Regions from separate parts of the Homo sapiens genome. Here region 1 is linked to region 2. The links come from fine-mapping of genetic effects on plasma protein levels. Region 2 holds a variant in brackets. A gene starts in the other region. All regions are shown on their reverse strands.

Region 1 (11,476 bases), not on the chromosome of region 2:
TTAAAGAAGCCACACAGTGCTTTTCAAAGAGTTGGTGTTCCCCTCACTAATGTGTTCTTGTGCCTTGAAGAAGAATCTTTCTGGGCCCTTCGGAGGTGTACAAAATAGGTAATTTCAACATTTATTTCTAACCTTTGAACCTCTTCCTCTACTTTACTATTCAAGGTATAGTCCAAGGACCACAGCATCAGCATCATTTAAAAGTTTGTGAAACGTGAAGGCTGGGTGCGGTGGCTCAGGCCTGTAATCCCAGTACTTTGGGAGGCCGAGGCAGGTGGATCGGCTGAGGTCAGGAGTTCAAGACCAGCCTGGCCAACATGATGAAACCCCATCTCTACTAAAAATACAAAAGTCAGCCGGGCATGATGGTATGTGCCTGTAATCCCAGCTACTTGGGAGGCTGAGGCAAGAGAATCGCTTGAACCCAGGAGGTGGAGGTTGCAGTGAGCAGAGATCGTGCCATTGCACTCCAGCCTGGGTGACAGAGCAAGACTCCACCTCAAAAAAAAAAATTTGTGAATGTGAAACATGAAACATCCTGGGCTTCACTACAGACCTACTGAATAGAATCTACAGTTTAATAAGATTCTCCTAGGTGAATCATGCACACATTAAAGTTTGAGGAGTTCTACAACAGGCCAGCGAGGTTCTAGCACCTCAGCCTCACTGATCACAGGCCACTGTCAAATCCAGGCTTCCAGGAATCAACCCAACAGAATATTAACACAACTCCCAGGTGCTCAGCTAATATTAACACAATGATACCCAAATCCTACATGAGAACACCTATATCAATAAATTTGTCCTCACTGGTTCCTGGGATTCTCCCAGGACAAGTTGACAAGTTCCTGCAAATTTCCCAGCACCTACGCTCTTGCTCTTGGAGCATATCCTGTACTTTCCTGTCCAGACAATGTTAGGATTAAACTTGCTACGGGCCTGGAGACTCTGAGGGCTGGTCAGGGTGGGTCCTGAGGGAAAAAGGCATGCCTTTTGCCAGAGAGTTATTATCTAACGGAAGGGAAGGTTGGATCCTTCATGGTTTACAGGGGAAGGGGGAATTATCCTCTGCCACCAAGGAAGATTCAGGGGGATTTGAAGGTCCAAAGTTCTCAGCTTTGTTCATCTCTGCTCAAATGTCACCATTCCAAGTTTCAGAGTCCTATGCCTTCCCAACAGTGCCTTTATTCCAGGATAAGGGCATCATCACTCATACATGAATCCAAGACACTCGGGTCTTGGATCTGATCCTCAGCCATATCTGTCATGTGGCCACATACAATAAACATTCCTTAAGACTTCCATTTGAGTTAGAAGTTCCTGGTCTAAACTTTTTTTTTTTTTTTTTTTTTGAGATGGAGTCTTGCTCTGTCGCCAGCCTGGAGTGCAATGGCATGATCTCTGCACACCGCAACTTCTGTCTCCCGGGTTAAAGCGATTCTCCTGCCTCAGCCCCCTGAGTAGCTGGGATTACAGGCACTCGCCAGCGTGCCTGGCTAATTTTTGTATTTTTAGTAGAGACAGGGTTTCGCCATGTTGGTCAAGCTGGTCTCAAACTCCTGACCTCAAGTGATCTGCCCCCCACAGCCTCCCAAAATGTTGGGATTACAGGCGTGAGCCACTGTGCCTGGCCTAACCTTATCTTTTTTATTGGAATTTTACTAGCACAATCAGAAATGGCCAGTGAGGTTCTGGCCTCAATATAGTACTATAGTAACAATATAGTAATCACCATTTGCAATCATCATTTGTGACCATAGTAAGTAAGTGCCTCAGGTACTTTATCTCCTAATGTCTTGACTTCCAACATTTCATCCATGCCTCACGAGTGATAGTCTAAGTGACTGTGATGCTTCTACGTGCTCCAGATTACTTGTGTCTTCTTTTTCCAACCACAGAGACCATCCATGCCCTCATCAAGGGCAAGCCAATCCTAGAATCCCATTTTGGGAATCTATGTCCTGGTACTGCCAATTATATCAGTGAGGACCCTGGCAGGAAACAGATAGCACACTCCAAGGATACAGGGAAAACCATGTTTCCCTACTCTCTACTCCCTCTCACCACTCAATACTTCTGTGACCTCTGGGTACCCATAAGTGTGTGGGGATTTCTCCCCACCAAGAAATTATCTGGCAGACAGTTCCTCAGTGGACACCAGATGGGTGTCCCCTAATTCAGTTCAATTCTGACATCATTTACCTGGAGGTAGCATCAGATCCCACAAGTTGAGGGTTCAGTTCCACAAGACTGCCCCCCTACTTCAGATACCAATTGCAAGCACAGAGTGTGGCCTATGCTTCTGACTGACCAGCTATAAATAAGGGTTTCCACAACCCACCTGGGGTTCAATTAATTTGCTACAGCGGCTCACAGAAGTCAGAGAAACACTTACTTATGCTTACCCATTTATTATAAAGGATATTACAAAGAACAGATAAACAGCCAGATGAAAGGGATGCATAGAGTGAGGTATGGGGAAAAAAAGGTGTGGAGCTTTCATGCCCTCTCTGGGCACCCTCCTCCAGAACCTCCATGTTTTCAGCTATCCAGAAGCCCCCACCCCAACTTAGTCCTTTCGGGTTTTTAATGGAAGTATCAGTACCTAGGTATAATTGATTACATCATCAGCCATTGGTTTATCAACTCAAGTTTCAACCCCTCTTCCCCTACCCAGAGGTGGGGAGTGGGTGGGACTCCCCACCACTACAGAATGTTAGAGAATGTTCCAACTCTCTAACCATGTGGCTGGTTCTTCTGCTGACTAGCTCCCATCCAGAGGCTGTCTAGAGGCCCCCAGCCACCAGTTATCTCATTAGCATACAAAAGACACAATCTCTCCCAAGATTCCAAGGATTTTAGGAGCTATATGTCAGAAAAGGAAGATGAAGACCAGATATATATTTCACAATATCACATACACTCAAAAAAAATTTAACTGGAAAGATTTTAATAAAGGGACAATTTAAGAGATTAGGTCAGGATTAAGGAACTAACATGGGATGATAGGCAGTTGGGGTCTAGCAATGGTGAGAAACCATTATCATACAAAGGCTTGAAGGGGCAAGAGGAGGGAACAGTGTTTCCAAAGCCTGTCATCCCAGCACTTTGGGAGGCCGAGGCGGGTGGATCACCTGAGGTCAGGAATTTGAGACCAGACTGGCCAACATGGTGAAATCTCATCTGTATTAAAAGTACAAAAATTAGGCCGGGCATGGTGGCTCACGCCTGTAATCCCTGCACTTTGGGAGGCCAAAGCAGGTGGATCACCTGAGGTCAGGAGTTCAAGACCAGCCTGGCCAACATGATGAAACCCCATCTCTACTAAAAATACAAAAAACTTAGCTGGGTGTGGTGGCGGGTCCCTGTAATCCCAGCTACTCAGGAGGCTGAGGCAGCAGAATCGCTTGAACCCAGGAGGCGGAGGTTGCAGTGAGCTGAGATTGTGCCATTGCACTCCAGCCTGGGTGACAAGGGTGAAACTCCATCTCAAAAAAAAAAATTAGCCAAGCGTGGTGGTGCGTGCCTCTAATCCCAGCTACTCGGGTGGCTGAGGCAAGAGAATTACTTGAACATAGGAGGCAGAGGCTGCAGTTAGCTGAGACTGTGCCACTGCACTAGAGCCTGGGTGACATATTGAGACTCTGTATCAAAAAAAAAAAAAAAAAAAAAAAAAAAAGAATAGAGATAGACCCGTGGAAGGGAGGCAACCCAAAAGGATCACTGTAGATCAGTGGGCCTCAATCTGTAGACCACTTTGGGAGGCCAAGGTGAGCCTTGGGATTCTCCTGCCTCAGCCTCCTGAGTAGCTGAGTAGTCAGGAGTTGAGATGGGGTTTCACCATGTTGGCCAGGCTTGTCTCAAACTCCTGTTCTGGATAAACAAAACTTAGGAAGTTCATTAATAGTACATCTGCCCATAAGAAAAGCTAAAGGGAGAAAGAAAAAACAAAAAACAAACAAAGAAATGCTAAAGGGAGACCTTCAGAATGAAACAAAAGGACAAAAAGTAATAACTTACAGCCACACAAAGAAACAAAGATCTCTGATAAACATAACAACATAGCAGGCCAGGCGTAATGAACTTCTTGGATATGTATATACATACTTTTCATCAGATTTCAGATGTTTTGTCATTATTTCTTCAATTTTTTTAATGCCCTGTTCTCTCTATTCTCCTCCTGAGACTCCTGTGATGAGGTATATTTGATGGTATCCCTGAGGCTCGTTTGGATCTCAAACTTTAGCACATATCAGAGTCACTTGGAGGGTATGTGAAAATGCAGTTTGCTGGACCCCATCCTCAGAGTCTCAGATGTGGTAAGTGGGAAGTAAAATCTAAGAATTCGTGTTTCTAACAAGCTCCCAAGTGATGCTGCTGCTGCTGCCCAAAGGCTACTCTTTGAGAACAACTGCCACAGGGGAAATTATTCACTGCCAGAACTGCAGCAAGATGAAGGATTTGGGGAATTAATACCCCTCTCTCCTTCCACCACTGATCAGTTGCTGCTTCCCATGGGCCAGCCCCAAACAGAAGCCAGAAAGCAGGTGACCCTAAGTAATGCTATCTGCAGAGGTCAGCCTTCCAGGGAGCAGAGCAGGGCCGTGAAGAGTGGAGAATGGATAGGCTGGGGCAAACAGAATAACCAGAACCATCATGGACAGAAGAATGGATAGATCAATGGAAAGAGGGGTGGATGGATGAATTAATGAACAGATACCTGAATAAAAGGATAGAAGGCCAGGCACGGTGGCTCACGCCTGTAATCCCAACACTTTGGGAAGCGGAGGCAAGCAGATCATTTGAAGTCAGGAGTTCGAAACCAGGAGTTCGAAACCAGCCTAGCCAACAAGGTGAAACCTCACCTCTACTAAAAATACCAAATTTAGCCGGGCATGATGGTGGGTGCCTGTAATCCCAGCTACTCAGGAGGCTGAGGCAGGAGAATCCCTTGAGCCCAGGAGGTGGAGGTTGCTCTGAGCCAAGATCGTGCCATTGTACTCCAGCCTGGGTGACAGAGTGAGACTCTGTCTCAAAAAAAAAAAAAAAAAAAGGACAAAAGAAGAACAATGGCTAACAGAGCTTATTGTGCGTCAGCCTCTAAGCTAAGGGCTTTACTCAGGGTTCCTCACTTAATCCTAAGAAGTAGATCTTCTACCATTCCCATTTTACAAATAAGGACACTAAGACACAGAAACTGGAGAATTTTCACCTTGTCGCAGTTAGTAAGTGGTGGAATCTGAATCCCAAGCTAGGCGCTCTGTCTGCAGAGTCTCCCTCCTCTGCACCGTGACTACCCGTGCTGTGCCATGACCAAGTGGCAGACAGGCGGTGTGGAGTGGAGGTAAAGACTGCAAACCCTAGAGCACACCTGGGTCCAAATCATGCTCCAGTACTTACTAGCTGTGTGGCTTTGTGCTCTGAGCCTCATGTTCCTTATGTGTAAAATAAGAATAATAATGTGAAAATAAGAAAAACTACATCAATGGTATTGTTTTGGGAAAGTTAAGCAAGGTAATAGTGGTAAAGTCCTTGACATAGAGCCTAGCACATAGTAAACAATCAAAAATACCATTACTATTATTATGATTAATGAATGGAAAGAAGCTAAGTCAGAAATTTAAGAGGGAAATGTTCCCCCTCCCTCTCTCCATCCAAAAGAGGGTCTAGGGTTTGGGTGACGACGGGTGACTGGGCGTTTCACATTTAGTTTCTCTTTCAAGGCCTTCTCTTCTGACCTTTCTCATAAGGATGGGAAGTCACTTGTCCCCTCCCCCATCGGCCGATTCCTTGAAATTTTAAGATTTGTCTGAATATGAGCTGGCCAGCCCCTCTCCTTAGAAATCCCCTCTTGGTTCCCAGGACTGAGAAAAGGGGGAAAATGAAGGGGGCTATTCCAAGCCAGTCTCCCTCCAGCTGTTCCTTTGACCCAGGTGTTGGACATAGGAAAACAGTAAATAGAGGAAGGGGAGGGTTTGCTGAGCCCCAGAGGCCTGAGATGTGGGATGGGGGTCCTGGGCCTCCTCCCAAGGTACCTGGCCTTTCAGCTCTGCTTGCCCCAAGGGAAGGACTGGTTCCCACATAGTGGGCAGGCACAGTGATGACCTTGGAGGCCACCCCAGGATCTCATGGTTGTCCTGAGGGTGCCAGGGAGCCTTCTTCACCACCAGCCCAAGAAAGAAGCACCAGTGAGGACAAGGGATAAACCTAAGGAAGGGAGCACAGTTCCTCACTGTGGGCCCCACCTTTGACCATCACTTCTGAACCCCAGCTTCATGGTTGATGATGCAAATGCCATCAATGGGATGACAGGGCAATCCCTCTCTCTGGAGAAACAGTGCACAGCCCCCTTTACTGGGCCAGACTGCAGACTTAAGTTCTCAGAGCAGGAGCCAAGGAAAGCAGAAGGAAAGGGCAACCGCAGGGGGAAGAAGGGGGGCAGGGTGCGATTCTGCCAGAAAGAGGGGGGCAACAGGGGAATCACAGAATGGGACATGAAGGGGAATTTCAGGCAGAGAAAGTGAAGCTCTGGCCATAAATAGGAGTCAGCTGCAGGGCTCACATTCCCAGCCTCACATCACTCACACCTTGCATTTCACCCCTGCATCCCAGTCGCCCTGCAGCCTCACACAGATCCTGCACACACCCAGACAGCTGGCGCTCACACATTCACCGTTGGCCTGCCTCTGTTCACCCTCCATGGCCCTGCTACTGGCCCTCAGCCTGCTGGTTCTCTGGACTTCCCCAGGTAAGGCTGAAGGGAGAGTCAGGGTCAGAGGCAGTGGGGGGCTGGCAGTGGGTAATGTCTAGATCTCAGATTGCTTGGCACTGGACGTAAGGGACATGGTGAGTTCAGGCAAATGCTTAGGTCTGTATATTTCGGTGAGCCTGGCAGGTCCCTGCATGTGTGCCTGTAAGTGTGGGTGTCCCTGTGCCCCTGAATCCCAATGCGGGTGTGTCTTTTAGCACATCCTGGGGCCTATGGCTGTGACTGTCTCTGCAAGCTCTATTTCCTGCTGCCTCCGTTTCCCAGGCAGAAGGAGATTTGCTTAAGGTAGGGAGAATGGCAGACACTAAGCCAAGGCTGATATTCAAAAATTTTAGCAATTAATAAGGCTCCTAACACCAGCCTACCCTACCCCACGCCCCTCCCACACTGTGACCTGCATTAACTCTTTACTTGCTGGATTGTCCTGGGAGAGAGGTTGGGGTGATCAGGGCAGCAGGAAGTCATTTGTGGGGCTCAGGGCAGTGGTTATTTACAAAACAGTTTAGAAGTATGACAATATATTTAGCAACCAGTAGAGCCAGAGCCATATTGGTGCATAATGGCTGAATACCAGGTCTAACTCCTCCCCGACCCCACCAGACACACACACACACACACACACACACACACACACACACACACACAGGTGTCCTCAATCCGAGCTAGGGCCATGGCCATGCCACCCTCAAGGGTCCCTGTGTCCTGTCACCTTCTTTCCCCATCCCAGCCCCAACTCTGAGTGGCACCAATGATGCTGAAGACTGCTGCCTGTCTGTGACCCAGAAACCCATCCCTGGGTACATCGTGAGGAACTTCCACTACCTTCTCATCAAGGATGGCTGCAGGGTGCCTGCTGTAGTGTGAGTTGTGGGGAGGGTGTCTAGCCTCATCTCCCGTTTTAGCCCCTGTTGAGACTCCCACCTTCTTATTCCCCTTCTCCATGCCAAGCCCAACCCCTTCAAGGAAATCCCTGAAACAGGTTCCCAGACATGGTCCCCAGGCATGCTGGATTCTGGGGCTCCATTCTCTCCGGCCTCTCACCCCAGGTTCACCACACTGAGGGGCCGCCAGCTCTGTGCACCCCCAGACCAGCCCTGGGTAGAACGCATCATCCAGAGACTGCAGAGGACCTCAGCCAAGGCAAGCCTGGCCCTCCCTGGCCCTGTCTCCTCCCTCTGAGCTCCTGTCTAAGATTCCAGCCCATGATCCTTCCTCTCCTTCCTCCTCTAGATGAAGCGCCGCAGCAGTTAACCTATGACCGTGCAGAGGGAGCCCGGAGTCCGAGTCAAGCATTGTGAATTATTACCTAACCTGGGGAACCGAGGACCAGAAGGAAGGACCAGGCTTCCAGCTCCTCTGCACCAGACCTGACCAGCCAGGACAGGGCCTGGGGTGTGTGTGAGTGTGAGTGTGAGCGAGAGGGTGAGTGTGGTCAGAGTAAAGCTGCTCCACCCCCAGATTGCAATGCTACCAATAAAGCCGCCTGGTGTTTACAACTAATTGATCACAACCTGTTACAGATTTCTTTGTTCTTTCTCCACTCCTACTGCTTAACTAGCCTTAAAAAAAAAAAAAAAGGCACCTGGCACCCATAGATCTGTCTGCTGTCCGTTTGCTGTCTAGCCAGGTGGACAGGAATAGGAAGGGGGAGGTGGAATGGCAGGATCTATTTTCTCTTCTGTGGCCTAGGGGGTCTCCTTGCTCACCTCCACTTAACAACCTGATGCTCTCAGGATCAGCCTCATTGCTTTCCATAGTTCAGCGACACTAAGCTTGGGTCAGTTCCCTGAATGAGCCAGCGTCTCATGCCTCCCACTCTTTGCTCTCCAAGGCAGGTGTTCAAGCATCCAGGTGTCTAAGGAATCCAGTGTCACTGGGGGGAAGGGAGTTGTGGGGAACCAGCTCTCACGGCTGGGGGAGGTGGAGTGGGGCAAAGGGCCCAGCTCTACTGCCTGGGGGAAAATACCCATCCACCCATGCCCTTCCCTTGGTCTGGCACACTCTTCTCTCTCCTCTGCCCACCTGGCTTCCCATCTGGGTCCAGACGCCTCTTCCTCCAGGAAGCCTTCCCTGACCCCAGGCTGGGTTAGGTAGCCTCCTGCAGTGGCCCCTCACAGCATTCATCACCCTGACTTATAGTTGCTGGTTTGTCCAAATTTGTCCATGTTCTTGGACTGGGATCACATCTATTTTGGGTTCCACTGTTTTTGTGGTGTCCAGCATGCTGCTTGGCACAAGGCAGTCCCTCAATAAATATTTGTTTAGAGAATGAATAAATATGTGAGGAAAGGCTCAGCAGCCAGGGCTGAGGGTCCATCTGTTCATTCTGTCCATACAGAATCTGACCTCCAGGCCAGCCTTCCTCTCTCAGCCAAACTGAGCAAGGTCCAGCCCCATCTTTGCAATCCTGGGGCCATGCCTCTCAGGGACACCGACAGACAGACCTGGGAGTCAGAGGTCAGAGACAGGAGAGAGGCCCACGGGGTGGAAGAAGGAGTAGCCAGGGAAGCACAGGAGATTCCACATAGAGGAGCCCTACCACCACCCCTACAGTCTACATGGGCTCCAGGGCTCAAAGGCAACACTGAGACCAGAGACATCTCCCCAGATGAGACCAGAAAGGAATCTCAGCTCTGGGAGATGAGAGCCGTGTGACTCTTGGAGCATCCCACAGGGCTTCTCTGTACAGAGTGAGTGCCTCGTACTTGAGAAGTCTCCTGGGGAAGCAGGCTAGCCTCCAGACAGTGTTCTCTAAGGGCCTCTCCAGCTGGGAGTGACAAGGCTGTGCCACTGGGGTCAGATGACAGCAAGGAGGCCAGATTGAGCACCCTTGCTTGGGAAGAGAGGTGTCATTATATCGGGTATACGTCAGCCAGCAACAAAACCAGGCCTGGGCAGGCCTTGAAAAGGGAGAAATGGTGAGGGAGTTGTGAAAGCCCCTCCTCACTGAGAGCATGACATCCTCTTCCTCTCCTCTGCTCCCAGATGCAGGTGCTCAAAACCTTGGGTATCCCAGGTCTCAGAATCACCTGGAATACCAGGTGGGTGGGAGGGATAGGGATAGTTTTCAAGAAAAGCTGCAATAACCCATCCATTCATGCATCCATGCATCCATTCATTCAGCTGTTTCTGCATTCATCAGACCTCCATCCAGCCAACTGTCCACTCACGCACTTCCCACCCAGCCATTCTTTCATCCATCCACCAAGCCAGCCAGCCATGGCGTTCTAGGTCTCCCAGCTGTGGACCCCGTGCCCCGCATCCCAGCAGGCTGGTGTCTCAGAGGACAAACACACATGGGAGGGGAGCACATTGCCTGAAATCCTTCTCAGTGCCAGTGACATTTAGAGGAAGTCAGCCTGCCACAGAAGCAACAAAAGTGATCTTTCTGGACTATCGGAGGAACACACAGACGGAGCAGGGCAGGTGAGAGTGGGAACCTTGAAGAAGATGCTACCAGGATAGGGGCCCCTGGACGCTACCTCCATGACACTGCCGCCAGGAGGTACAGAGCAAATCCTGAATTCACTGCCTGGGCCAGAGTCCCATGATCCTGTCTCTGCCCCACTCATTGTGTGACTCTGGGCAAGTTCCTTTTCCACTCTGCACCCGGAGATCCAGTTTCCCCATTTGTCAGATGGGAGAGAGGAGCTTGATTTTTGAGACTCCTTCCAAACAAAGACTTGGCTCCTGAATCTTTGGTTCTCATGCTAAACCGCCAGCATTTGCATAGACACCCCACAAAGTCTTGCACATACAGAAAACTCTCCCTGGGGCCACCCTCTGAGATCAAAGGAGATGCTGAGGCTCATAAAAAGAGAAAATAATCTAGGAGCTAGTGAAGTGCCTTGGATTCAATTGACCCTGGAAGCCTGGGAAATGAAGAACTTGGAGGAAATCTGAAGGGGTGGACACCAGAGTCCCAGGGGAGCTGGCATGCAACCCTCCCCACCCCTTCTACAGCCAATGCTTTCCATCCTAGCTTTCTGCCTTCCTCTTTTTCCCACCCCCCAACCATACCAACCCATCCTGGGCACTGGGTCTTACCCCCTTATCTCCCTGCCAGGTACAATTGCCCAGCAATCTGAGCAATTGGAGCAACTGAGCATCCTGCCCCACTCTAACATTCTCAGCACTGTGACTACATTTAATCAACATCTGCTTCCTCTTTCACGGTGAGTCACTGACAATTGTTGCATTTTCATTTATCCAGAGTTCTGGTGGGCCAGGAGCCCACCAGAGATTGTCAGATCTCTGAGGAGTGGTGTGGACTCCTAGCTTCCCAGTTAGGATGTGGAGGCCTTGTTGCCTGCCTATAGATAGACACCTTCTTCTCTAGCGCACATGGCATCTGTTACAGGTTCAAGGCCTGCAGCTGGGTGATACCTCCCATCCTAAAGGCCAATATCTCAGCAGCCAATATCTCCCTAAAAGTATCTGACATCCCTTCTCAGGTTGCTCTTAGCCTTTGGGGGATGAAAATCTCCCTTTCCTATTTGTTGAGGGAGCTCCCAAGGGAGAGGTTGGGCCTCATCCAACTCCATTGCTAACATTGCTCTGCCAGGGTCTGGCATGAAATAAGCCCCAATACACATATGATTAACAAAAATGGAACTGAACATGGCCTTTTCCCACCATGCCCCGCCCCCCACCAGGAGCACATCCAGTTCTCAAGACAGCTGGGGCTATCTCTGTTGTGTGGTTGAG
Region 2 (7,166 bases):
TTCACACTAATCTGTTCCCTATTGGAGGTTGCAAAAGAAAGCCATCCTCACCCTCATTTGTGGCCCCTAGCTTTGGGAAAGTGAAGGAAACAACTGAGGGTTACAATATTATTTCAGGTATCTTTGAATATCAGGAGGTAGATATATGGATATGAATTTTTAATTGTCTCTGTTCTCAAGTCCTGATAAACTTTTTAATTATAAAAATAGTTCTATTTTAGATATCCATTAGTAATCTGCCTTTAGATAAGCATTAGAGTATCACTACTTTTATTTCCTCAGTATAGCTTTACCCTATTCTATCTATTCTCAACCGTTAGAATGTTTTACTACTTTTATTTCTTCTTCAGTATAGCATCACTCTACTTTGTCTTTTCTCAATCTGAGGTAAAAAAAAAAAAGATTAATACATTTTTTGTTATTCATTGCAATAGATGGCAATTCTAGCACACATATTTCCAGACACCGAATCTAGTACTTCTTGTCTCTTTATTCCATGTTCTCATCTTGAGAACCAAATTTGAAATAAAAAAATCTTCTGAAACTTTACATTGCCCATGATATTTCATCTTTGTTTTTGTTTTTGAGACAGTGTCTCACTCTCTGTTGCCCAGGCTGGAGAGCAGAGGCTTGATCTCGGCTCACTGTAACTTCTGCCTCCCAGACTCAAGCGATCCTCCCACCTCAGCCTCTTGAGTAGCTGGGACTACAAGAGCACACCACCATGCCTGGCTTATTTTTGTATTTTTAGTATAAGCGGGGTTTTGCCATGATTGCCAGGCTGGTCTTGAACTCCTGGGCTCAAGCAATCCACCTGCTTAGCCTCCCAAAGTGCTGGGATTACAGCATGTGAGCCACTGTACCCAGCCTGCCTGTGATATTTCCACTGTCCTTTTCCACTGTTAGTTGTAGCAACACATCTGGCCTCTGTGAACATCAGTGATACAATGAGTATGATTCAAGAGTGTGAGTAATTTTTCATACATTTAATAATGTTCATTGAAAGTATTTTACTGTTTTTATTTTTGAAAGTACCTATTTTAAAGAGACTATGGACCCTTTGTTTTTTCTCTTTGTACATCTTTATATTATTTTTAAAAACTGGTAAATATTGTGTAATCTTTTAAAACATACCCCCCTATTTAATGATTTTCTTTAGCCTTGTGTTTTCAAAATTCTGGCTCCACACAAATTTAATTTGCATGGCTAACTAACAATACTTATCATCGTTTCCCTGCTTCCTGTATGTAGGTGGCATGCTTCTGGATAATAAGAACCGTGTCTGACTCATTTTTATGTTCCATAATGCATAGTAATTGCTTAACAAATAATAGATTTCAGCATGTTTATTGCACTGAATTAAATTATATATAGTAAAATAAACCCAATGACTCTAGCAGCCCCATAAAACTACCACTTTCCTTTATCATGTTTTATTGAATTTGTTATTGGTTGCAGTACAAAAAATAGAGTTCACGTTGTTTTTAATCGATCTCAAAATTTTCACAGATGTTGGCAATCTGTAAGAAATTAAATCTCTTCTCGATTCCAACAGTGCTGGGAGAGCAGGCAATTTAGATAAAATCCTTCATCAGTGTTTCCAGTGTCAAGATACTCTTTCATTATATAGACTTGTTCTGCACTCTATCCGGGAGTCCATGGCAAATGATGTGGATAAAGAGCTAATGAAGCAGGTAGAATGTAATAAACTTATAAAAAGGAATGTTAGTTTGCTTTGTGTGTGTGTGAATGGAAATAAATAACAATTCTTTTAAAATTTGTGCTTAAATATGTTTCAGGCATATGCAGGAATGCTGATAGCCATAGTGTGCTTGTGGAAATTTGTGTTTACCTGATTATCATTGAGATTTATCATCTTTTCATGTTATTGGCTATCCTTTTTTTCTGAATTGCTGGTTCAGGTCTTTACCCATTTTTTAATTGGGTCATTTGTCTTTTCCTTATCGATCTGTAGGTGTCTTAAATGTTCTGCATACTGAAAACAAATCCTTTATTAGAAAATTTGCAAATAAATGTCTTTTTCCTGTTTGTTTCTTGTCTTTTAACTGTATGGTATCATTCATTATGTTTCATTCATTATACAAAGCTTTGTTTCATATATATATGTGTGTGTGTGTGTAAACACACACACACACACACACACATAATTTCCTTCAAAAAGTTTTATAGTTTTTTCTTCGTGTGTGAAGTCCTTAACTCTTGTTGATATCTTTTTGTTTATTGTGTGAGGAAGGATTCTATTTTTTAATCCTCTGTCATATGGATAATTAATTGTTCTTTTTACTAAATAATACATCTCTTCTGCTCATTTGCAATGCCAACTGACAAATATCAAGCTCACAAATAAATGTGGGTCTGTTTCTAGGCTCTTCTGTTCTGATTTTGCCTATTATTTGCCAGTACCATACTGCTTAGTTGTTAGAACTTTAAAGTAAGCTTTGGTAGTTACTTGGGTAAACCTCCTTTTATTATTATCCTTCACAATTGCCTTGTCTAATTTTCCATATATATATTTTTAGAATTAAGTGCTATGTAATTAAAATAACATTGTAGTTTTTTGTTGATGTATTCAATTTTGGTTTTTGAAAATATATATCTAGCAACCTCATTTTTTTTTTTTTTTTCCCGAGACAGAGTCTCGCCTTGTCGCCCAGGCTAGAGTGCGGTGGCGCGATCTCGGCTCACTGCAAGCTCCGCCTCCCGGGTTCAAGCAATTCTCCTGCCTCGGCCTCCCGAGTAGCTGGGACTACAGGCACCCACGACCACGCCCAGCTTATTTTTTGTATTTTTAGTAGAGATGGGGTTTCACCGTGATAGCCAGGATGGTCTCGATCTCCTGGCCTCGTGATCTGCCCACTTTGGCCTCCCAAAGTGCTGGAATTACAGGCGTGAGCCACTGCGCCCTGCCGAACCTGGATCTATTTTTATGTTAACTTTTCAGCTTGGTGGTTCCCAGGGTTTGGACTTCTCAGCCCACTCCAAGCCCACAAGCTTCCTCGTATTCTCTCCACGTCTGTGGGCTAATGTTTTTCTCATGCACCCCTTCACTGAGGGTGAAGGTCCTTCAAAGCCCTTCAAAGATCCTGGTGTTGACAAGAAATCTAATTCTACCTCCTTGCCTCACACAGCTTAAGGGCTCACCTTCCATCCCACTGTGGCTGTGAAAACCTGAGCTCTTACTGGGGGATGCTGCCTGTCCTCTAGCTCCACTGCCCCCATAGCCAGCAGTTCCAGCCCTTTACACTCTGACTTCAATTTCCTATTCATTTTTGGCAGTTGGAGGATTTCCCTTTATTTATCTAAAAACTGTGCTTTTAGAAATGTGTCTGATATTCATACGTGTTTATAATAGGAGGGCTATTTTCTTCCACTGTCTTCCTGGAATTGGAATTCTGCCATTAATTATAATAATACATTTTATGCAGTTTTAATTTTCACTGTACTTTTTTCTGTAAGAGTGTTATCTTTGGTGTGCTAGATTTTATATATACACTATCTTAATCTTCATTAATGTCTTTTGGACAGTGTGTTTTAATAAATCTGTTTCTTGATTTATTAAATCATTTGAATTATAAGTTTTGGTAAAAAGAAATAGCCTTAAAAGAATTATGGAACTTTTAATGGCCGTTAGTTACTTATACAGGTGCTTTATGATTACTGTTAATTTGTTTTTCTACCTAGATCCTCTGCCTTGTCAATGTTAGTCACAATGGTGTGAGTGAATCAGAACTGATGGAACTCTATCCTGAGATGTCCTGGACTTTCTTGACCTCCCTTATTCACAGTTTATACAAAATGTGTTTGTTGACTTATGGATGTGGCTTGCTTAGGTTTCAACATCTGCAGGTAATGTTATTTTAGGCATCTTTTTATTTATTTATTTAAGAAACAGGGTCTTCTCTGTCACCCAGGCTGGAGTGCAGTGGCAAGATTATTTCTGCCAAAGGAATAAATTCTAAAGATCTGCTATACAACATTGTCCCTATAGTTAACAATACTGTAGTACACTTAAAAATTTATTAAGAGGGTAGATCTCACGTTAAGTGGTCTTACCACAATACAATTTTTAAAATTAAAAAATAAGTCAGACACAAAAGATCAAAAAAAGTTTCTTAAAGGTAGTTTATTTCTTGAAGAGAAAAAAAGTCTTTTTCAATTATGTTTCATTGAATTGCGGTATTATTATACAGTCATGCATTGCTTAACAATGGGGATATGTTCTGAGAAACACATCATTAGGTGATTGTATCATTGTGTGAGCATTGTAGAGCGTACTTACACAAATCTAGATGGTACAGCCTACCACACATGGAGGCTATATGGTATGGCCTATTGCTCCCAGGCTACAAACCTGCACAGCATATTACTGTACTGAATACTGTGTGTAACTGTAAGTATTTGTGTATCTAAATACAGAAAAGTTACAGTAAAAATGTGGTATGAAAGTTTTAAAACGGTATGCCTGTATAGGGCAGCTTCATTATAATTTTATAGGATCATCATCATGTATGCAGTTTGTTGTTGACCAAAACATTGTTATGTGCACATGACTGTATATGTATTAAGAGTTTGGACTCTGTAAGCCAGTCAGCCTCCTTTTCATGGATTAATGCCTATCTAAACTTGGGCAAGATCTAAGCCCCAGGCGGACTTTGGCAGTTTATGAAAGGGGTTGTGAAGCAAATTAATTGAGGTCGTTCTTGGTCCTTGTGAGGTACTAGAAAGATGTTTAGCACATAGAAGTAAATCTTTAGGAAGTTTTGGCTAAAATAATTCCTATCATCTGCAATGCCATGGTTGATTTATATATATATACAATTGTAAATGAAGTCTTACATTTGAGTATGCTGTATCATATTTGTAGATGTGAAATGTTTGCAATTTCACAGCCTTTTTCCTTTCTTTATTGTGTATTGTTTGAATATAATTTATTCTTTTTAGTAACTTTTCATTCCACACTTCTGAGATTTTTAATGTATTAACTAAAGTTTGAATTAAATTGTGTTTTGAGCTTATAAATATTAGTACAGAAATTTTTATTCTAGTAACAGTTTATCAAATAAATATGTCCTAAATTTAAAAACATTTAAGTGACATTTCTATTATACAGCTATAAAATAGGAATAATTATAAATTCTTTTTTGCAAATCTCTTGTTAGATGTACAGTGACTTACGTGAAATAGAACTCAGTATTTCTTCTTTTTCTCCCTAGGCTTGGGAAACAGTGAGATTGGAGTACCTGGAAGGCCCCACTGTTACTTCTTCATACAGGCAAAAGCTAATCAACTATTTCACCTTGCAGCTAAGGTATTGTAAATGTTCCTGTTGTTCTTCTGTAACTTCTGCAACACACTACCTTTGTGTCCTTATTTCTGTTTCTTAGCTTACAACTTAAAGTACAAAAACTTAATTATTACAAAAAAGATTAAATCCTCTCCCTATTCTGTTAATGTCAAAAGAGCAAAAGATGATTTTGTCTTTTAATATTATGCTAAAAGTTTAAACAAGGAAAATCAATGTAGGATCATTTTATTATTTTTATTTTATTCCAATAGTTTGTGTCCATGTATCTGTATGTGTATATACGGGTCCATTGAGTGTTTTTTTAAATAGTTCAATTTTAGGAAAATACTTTTAGAGTTTGGTTGATGGTTCTGCATATCACTGAATTTATTTTCTTAGATTGGTAAAGTCTCTGATTTTGACCTAACTTTTTTAGTATTAAATTATACTTAAAGAATCAGAGATATATGTTAAATATTTTTCTTCCTTTGACATTTGCCTGAAGCCTTTTTGAAGCAGTCTCATTGTAGGAAGATATTGAATATTGTCTCCTCTCTTTTGATAGTCAGGACAGAGTGACTTGGAGAAGTGCAGATGAACTCCCGTGGCTTTTTCAGCAGCAGGGAAGTAAACAGAAGCTGCATGATTGCCTTCTTAATCTCTTTGTGTCTCAAAACCTTTATAAAAGGTAAGAAACATTATAG[A/G]ACATCTTTCCCCAGAAAGAGAGATTTAAAGTTGTTCAGTTTAACAAAGAAAAAATGGTATTTTTAATTTAAAAATTAGTCTAAGTATCTGAAATACAAATAGTGTAGGAGAAATCTTGAGACAATTTACAAATCTCTATTAGATCTGCTTTTCCCAAGAGGAAAACATAGAGTACTGCTGCTTTATGAAATCAGAGCTGGAATGATTTCGGTTCAACTTTTTATCTTATGCTTACATTTAAGCATGTCTAAATTTAAACCACTCAGAGAGGTGGTTCGTAATGTCTGCTTCTTTGGGCCTTCAGATATCTGAAAGCGTAGCCTTCAAACCAGACTCGGGTCCAAGTAGAATCTGTCTGGTGTTGAATTTATTTGTTTTTGTTTGTTTGTTTACTTTCTATGTCTGGTGTTGAATTTAAAGAAAGAATTACCCTAATTCAAAAATGTATTCTGTTTGTCTCTTTTGATATGTTATAGTTTGTCAGTGGCAGAACTACCTTTTTATGAGGCAACTGTCTAACCTACTAAGCTTCATGAGGGTTTTTTTCTGCCTTACTTAGAGATTTAGACATTTCTTATACAATAAGTATCATAATTTATTTTGCTCCTACATAAACTCTCTCAAATTTGTTGCATCTCTTATTTCTGATCTCCATTCCAATTTTTCATGATTCCTTTGAAATCAGATATTTTTTAGTTTACCAGCCCCATACTACTTAAGATCGCCTACAGATGAATAAGCTTACTTTTGTCATTCAATTTCTTGATGAAAATACAAAGTAGATACTCTGTGACAGTTTATTTTTTATTAGTTTCTTCTCTTTGAATTTCCATACTTAAAATAATTTTGGGAGTGAACTCAGTGGTTGGCTCCATATTGTGAAATGTGTAAAAAGGATTCAGATAGATTCCCATTGGTAAGTAGCCATGATGGTATTAAGGATAACAGCCAACACCGTGGAGTACTTACTGTGTGCCATAATCCCCCTACAGTACCAGCTGAGGCAGGTAGTGTCTCCATTTCTGCAGATGAAGGTGATGAGGTCTAAGAGGTCAGATAACCTGCTCAAGATTACATAGCTAGGATAGTGGTGGAATTCAGATAGTGAGTGGTCTGAGTCTTACCTCATTACACAGTACTCGCCTACTAATAAATT

Direction of the effects. Alleles are on the strand shown, and positions count from the first base shown. The strength of an association depends on the size of the effect and on how common the allele is.
As copies of G replace A in region 2, the plasma level of the protein whose gene starts at base 6,563 in region 1 goes up (weak association).

The links. A credible set is the group of variants that fine-mapping cannot tell apart. PIP is the chance, under the fine-mapping model, that this variant and not a neighbour inherited with it causes the effect. Protein levels are from antibody-based Olink assays in UK Biobank. Linkage for the fine-mapping came from a reference panel and not from the study's own genotypes, which makes the PIPs less certain.
Region 1: it holds the start of CCL19, and the variant in region 2 is the best candidate, but not a certain one, in a credible set for the plasma level of the CCL19 protein (UK Biobank, PIP 0.61).

What each region holds. Positions count from the first base shown.
Region 1 is chr9:34,686,363-34,697,838 of GRCh38, reverse strand. It overlaps CCL19 (C-C motif chemokine ligand 19), which reads left to right and starts at 6,563. Exons shown (of 4, transcript NM_006274.3): 1 at 6,563-6,748; 2 at 7,497-7,629; 3 at 7,816-7,909; 4 at 8,000-8,269. The coding sequence starts at 6,700. The coding sequence ends at 8,020. It also overlaps a transcript of PHF24 not described here.
Region 2 is chr3:132,689,355-132,696,520 of GRCh38, reverse strand. NPHP3 (nephrocystin 3) reads left to right here. Exons shown (of 27, transcript NM_153240.5): 16 at 1,556-1,694; 17 at 3,703-3,867; 18 at 5,235-5,329; 19 at 5,871-5,993. It overlaps NPHP3-ACAD11 (NPHP3-ACAD11 readthrough (NMD candidate)), which reads left to right. Exons shown (of 45, transcript NR_037804.1): 15 at 1,556-1,694; 16 at 3,703-3,867; 17 at 5,235-5,329; 18 at 5,871-5,993. Among named protein-coding and RNA genes, the nearest start is that of NPHP3-AS1, 29 kb to the left of the region's middle. RefSeq lists enhancers at 2,491-2,990, 2,991-3,492. The variant A/G (reference allele first, on the strand shown) is at 6,010.